Linked DNA regions of Homo sapiens: region 1 is linked to region 2. The links come from fine-mapping of genetic effects on gene expression. A gene starts in region 2. The other region holds a variant in brackets. All regions are shown on one strand. Distances are from middle to middle. Region 1 overlaps EDAR (ectodysplasin A receptor). Region 2 holds the start of EDAR (ectodysplasin A receptor).

The links. PIP is the estimated chance that this variant, and not a neighbour inherited with it, causes the effect.
Region 1: its variant is the best candidate, but not a certain one, in a credible set for the expression of EDAR in whole blood (TOPMed, PIP 0.77).

What each region holds. Positions count from the first base shown.
Region 1 is chr2:108,964,223-108,967,129 of GRCh38, forward strand. The region is part of intron 1 of EDAR (ectodysplasin A receptor); the gene reads right to left. It also overlaps a transcript of RANBP2 not described here. Among named protein-coding and RNA genes, the nearest start is that of EDAR, 24 kb to the right of the region's middle. The variant A/G (reference allele first, on the strand shown) is at 1,214.
Region 2 is chr2:108,987,951-108,990,857 of GRCh38, forward strand. It overlaps EDAR (ectodysplasin A receptor), which reads right to left and starts at 1,270. Exons shown (of 12, transcript NM_022336.4): 1 at 1,010-1,270. It also overlaps a transcript of RANBP2 not described here. RefSeq lists an enhancer at 1-244.

The DNA.
Region 1 (2,907 bases), 24 kb before region 2:
TTTTTATTTACTCCTGGGGAAACTGAGACTCTGAGAGATCCAGGACTTTTCTGAGGTCCACCGGTGACCTGTGCTACAGCCAGAAGCCCCTGCCAGGTCATCTGGACTCCAGTTCAAGTCTCAGTCTCTGCCACATGATGCCACGGCTCCAAAGCAGTCCCACTAACAGGGAACTGTGACGAAAAGGGATCAGGTCATGGAGCTGTTCATCTTTCCCTAAACTGAAGAGGAAACCCAAAATATGAGAAATAAAAGTCCCTACTCTAAGAGGAAATCAGGTACTTTGGGGGAAAAAAACCCCAACAAACTCCAAAAGCCCAACCAAACCACAGTCACCAGTGACTGAAATGAGGATAATCTTTTAACAACAAAGGGCAGCTGTTTAAAGAACTAGGTTTCTCTGAGCAAATGGAGCAGCAAATAGCACTCCAATTCCAGAAAGAAGAAGTGCTGAAGGCGTGTCCACAGGAGAGCATCCCAGTGCTGGAATCCACACTCTCCGTTACGCCACACTCAGTGCTCACTAAGTGACAGCAGGCAGCAGCCCTTGGCTTGCTTCTACCCAGAGAGCTGAGGTTCCTAATCAGAAGACCTTCCAGAGAGCCACAGACCCCAAATGTTTGGAAATAATTCCACAAACTGTGTAGCATGACAAAAACATACTTAATAACAGCACGTCTGGAATAAGGAACAGTTCATTCATTCTAATTAAATCCTATAAAGTTCAGCTTAACATTTAAATTTTTTTTAATGATCTAAGACTCTCTTCAATAGCACAACCTGCCTCTTTTACATGAACATTCTAAAAACTTACTTTAATATTCCTCCAAACATTTTTTAACTATGCCACCCACTTAGAAAAGTGTGTGTGCACGCAAGCATGTGTGTGTCTGTGTGTGTGTGTGAAGGGTACTGGTATTTATTTTTTGAGTGTCCAAAGTGTCATGATTATATCTTTTAATGACAACAAATGGGCCAGGCGCGGTGGCTCACGACTGTAATCCCAGCACTTTGGGAGGCCGAGGCAGGCGGATCATGAGGTCAGGAGATCGAGACCATCCTGGCTAACATGGTGAAACCCCATCTCTACTAAAAATACAAAAACAAAATTAGCTGGGCGTGGTGGTGGGTGCCTGTAGTCCCAGCTACTCGGGAGGCTGAGGCAGGAGAATGGCATGAACCCGGGAGGCCGAGGTCACGCCACTGCACTCCA[A/G]CCTGGGAGACAGAGCGAGATTTCGTCTCAAAAAAAAAAAAAAAGATAATAAATGACCCAGTTGTTCCCAGATACAGGTCTTTTGGGGAGAGAAAAACATTACAGACAGGAAGATCCTTAGAAGGTTTTTACCCCATCAGGATTTTCTCCTCCTGGGCTCTACTGGCTTTGGGTCTTTTCCTCTTACCTTTGGGTGTCTGTATGCCTCCTTCCTTCTCATTTGGGTGACTGCTGCAGTGGGAGAGCTGGGCACCTTCCCTGGGTGTGTAGTAATTGGGGTTTGATGTAGGAGAGGTGTGACTGCTCTGTGCATTGATGTGGTGGTGGGGGGCTGGGGTTTTAGCACATCACAGGAAATTCAAGATGGGCCTTTTGATGTGCAGCACCCTCTCCTCCCCTCCTGCATCATGTACTCTCCCTCCACCTTTCCCTTCTGTGCTCCCCCCTCTCCCCCCAGGCAAAGAAATATTTCCTGAAAACTGGAAAAACCAGGTACTATCAACGTCAAATCAGTGCCAATTAAATTCGGTTATAAAATTCAGGCCTTGTCCCTCATCTTTGAGTGACACCTTCCCTTTTACAACTGGGGCTGTTAATACCACAATTAAAACATTCAATATCACCATATCCTTGGATCTAAAGCAGTTTATAGCCTTGGAGTTCTGTTAAGAAAGTCATTAACACCTCAAGGTGTTTTGATAAGACCAACTTTGAAGCAAGCCTCTCCTCCTGGTCTTTTATTGCCCCTGTCATCTTAAGTATCAAATTTCAAGAATGCAAAGACCTGTCTGCCTTGCATGTTGTTGCCTACTCAAGTTCCGTCTTTGTCATTTCTATTATCAATATTTTAAAGTCAGATGATCTTTGCAATTAACACATGAACTTTGGGTGAAGGGTTTAGATTTACTATGCTGAGACTGGCATTAAGTCCCTTCAAAGCCTTAAGAAATGCAGTGGCATTGGAGGCCAGCCGCAGGCAGAGCTCCTCTGGAGTGACTCCTCACAGGGCACAGGAAGGCCTATGCCTCATCTCGCGGGCCCCGGTGCAGTTATGTGGGGTCAGAGCCTGTGGTCTCAGCCATACCCTGTGCTCTTTCAACCTGAAGACTATGAGGAAGAGGTCATCTTCTGTCTGGACAATAGTCATCAGAGAGTTCTACGGTGCCCAAGTGCATTCAAATAGTAAGGAAACCCTACTGTCTTCAGGAACACTACTGTGTTTGGCTATAGGGGTTCTGAGAAAATGAGCTTCAGCTGTGTTGGCTCTGCCTGTAGAGAAGGGCTTCCCAAGCTACTGAGCCCACATGGCCTGCTGGCAGAGGCCAAGTGCCAGCCCTGGAAGGGAGCACAGTGGAGGGAGGATTGATTGCCTGGGGACCACTATTCTTGGCTAAACTGCTGAGTAGGACAAACAACTCCACTAACATGATGAAGTGAAAGGGAGACAGAGAGGGACCCTCTTTACTGGGGTTTGTCCCAAAGACCAGCCAATTGTGCATGGGTTTGTTTGTTTGTTTGAGATGGAGTCTCACTCTGTTGCCCAGGCTGGAGTGCTGTGGCACAGTCTTGGCCCACTGAAACCTCTGCTTCCCAGGTTCAAGCAATTCTTCTGCCTCAGCCTCCCAAGTAGCTGGGATTACAGGCACCCGCTACCATGCCAGGCTAATTTTTGTATTTTTAGTAGAGACGGAGTT
Region 2 (2,907 bases):
TCTATTATGGCTCTTCACTTCTTTGTTACACTTTCACTCTTGCTTAGAAAGTGTCTCAAAAATGCCACTTGAGAGCCACAGAGCAGTGGCCTGGGGACTGGGGAAGAGGACGGTGGTGCTCCTGTCTCTCCGTACGTCTCCTCACATGCGTGTACCCCTGGCTGTGTGGGATTGCCCACTGACCGGCATCTGCCCTGCTTGTTGATTTTAACTGTCCCTCTTGTTGCTGACCCAGCACAACATGGGCAGGGAAACCCAGTGGGAACCTCGCCTGCTGACCTCCCTGCCCAGCCACCCGCTTCTCCCTGAGCTGACATCTCAAAGCTTGGCTGCTGCAGGAGGCTGGGAATCAGAGCCGACTGAATCAGAGCCGACTCCTGTCTAGGAGCCCAACCCACCCCACGGTCTGTCAGAGTGTTGAGAGGAACCTCTTGGCTGGAAATGAAAACCTCAATCATCACAAATAGGTACCCACTCCCCTCCTTCTCTCCCTCTCCCCGCTCCCCCGCCACCAACACAGAGGCCAGGATATGGGGGGTCTCAGACACGACTGGAAACCCCACTTGGAAGGTCTCTTAGGTCACAGCGGGTACGCAGAGTTGGAGGCAGGTACAGAGCCCAGCTAGAGTCCCTGCCGCGCCTGCCTTCCCCAGTGAGCCGGGCACAGGGGCAAACCTGAGAAACATACTTTTCACGCTCCCTGGAGGAACCCGTTGCTTCAGTAGCCCAAATCTTAAAGCCTGTGAAGCACACACAGAATTTGTCTCCCTAACCAAATGTGCAACCAACAGCAAAACAGGGTTTCTGATGTTTTTCTAAAACAAAGGAACAATCTCAGGTCTTAGAACTGGTAGCGCAGACATACTGCAATCGGTAAAGCTTGTTCAAACGCAACCCAAAAATGACATGCATTTCAAAAATGCACCCAGCCTCTCTCCCAGCCCATGACACCTCCGTCTCGGCCACAGCTGAAGAGTTTAGAAAACCAGAGGAAAGGACCAGGGCTTACCTGGCTTCTGTTGGAGGTCAGCTTCAGTCCCAGCAGAAGATGGGTCTATGAAGAAAGTCAGGTACCATCCAGTTCTGGGTGACAGGCTTCACAGGTGGCCACCGTGGCAGCCCTCTCAGAAGCAGGTACTCTATGTCCTTAGGGGCCAGCAGGGCTGCCTGGGACCTGGCACACCTCTCTGACACTAGCCCCGCTTCCTTTCCGTTTAAAGGGCTTCCCGGGAACTCTTCCTTGACCGCTCCCTGCCCTGTCTGCAAGTTTGGAAACTCAGTCCTTGCCGAGGGGCTTTCCCTCATTGCAAACTCACCTGCACCATCTAGAGGTCTCTCCCAGCACTGGAGAGGCTGGAGCGGGCACGTTCAGCCCTGCTGCCATAGGTCCCTGGCACACCTGGCTCTCCGGCCGTCTGCCCCTTAAGAGATCTGTTGGAATGCGTAAAAATCATGGATTTTTTTTTTTGCAGGGGTGGGGGCCTTGCTTCTATCAGAGCCTTTAGGCGTGGGAGTGCTAAAAAGCTAAACTAGCATTAAAATATCATTAATCAAAGCTTGTTCGTAGAAGGACCCCCCACTGAGATGGCTACAGGCATGGGTGCCACTGCACGGATTCAGCTTCCAACATGTCTGTTCACATTCTCACCCATCCCCCGCACATCCCTCAGGGTTTGAGCCACCAGGACTGCTCTTCCTTTCCTCTCTCTGGACACCTCACACCACCAGTGTATACCCATGTAACTTCAGATAACCATACACACCCCCCGTATAACTAGGTAATTAGGAAGCCATTTGAAACATCAACATTTTGAAAGGACATACCTTTCAGTATTGGGCAATTATTTCTCAAAAAGTAAATGATTGGGGGGGGGAAAACAGCCTTAAAATAATGTCATTCTCTTGTCATTTTCTCCCTCATTCACACCTACACAGATAAATACAGGAACAGAGCAGCTCCTCCAGGCTAGATTTCTGTGTTCTCCTTTTCCATCTTGTCCCCTCTGCCTTGGAAACCTACAAGGTAACTCACACATGAGAAAGTAAGAGCTTAAGAAAGAAACAGTCTGGGCTCCGTGGCTCACACCTGTAACCCCAGCACTTTGGAGGCTGAGGCGGGCAGATCACTTGAGGTCAGGAGTTTGGGATCAGCCTGGCCAACATGGTGAAACTCCGTCCCTACTAAAAATACAAAAATTAGGCCGGGCGCGGTGGCTCACGCCTGTAATCCCAGCACTTTGGGAGGCCGAGGCGGGTGGATCATGAGGTCAGGAGATCGAGACCATCCTGGCTAACAAGGTGAAACCCCGTCTCTACTAAAAATACAAAAAATTAGCCGGGCGTGGTGGCGGGCGCCTGTAGTCCCAGCTACTCGGGAGGCTGAGGCAGGAGAATGGCGTGAACCCGGGAAGCGGAGCTTGCAGTGAGCCGAGATTGCGCCACTGCAGTCCGCAGTCCGGCCTGGGTGACAGAGCGAGACTCCGTCTCAAAAAAAAAAAAAAAAAAAAATATACAAAAATTAGCCGGTGGTGGCATGTGTGGAGGCTAAAGCAGGAGAATTGTTCGAACCCAGGAGATGGAAGTTGCAGTGAGCCGAGATTGTGCCACTGCACTCCAGCCTGGGCAACAGAGCGAGAATCTGTCTCAAAACAGAAAAGAAAAGAAAAGAAAAAAGCAGACAGAAATGTATGGGGCTGGGGCAAGGACCTAGACTGTAAAGGACTAATTCTGCCTCCACAGAGATTAAGCTGAACCAGAGTTACTTAGCTGACTTGATCCTTGTGGATGATTAATCTAGATAATATAAGCTCCCAAACAAGAATTTTAACTTGAATTTTCAGGTTTGGTTGTCTACCCTGCTCATGCCGAGTTCAGACTGAGGGTCTGTGATAAATTAAAGTCACTGAA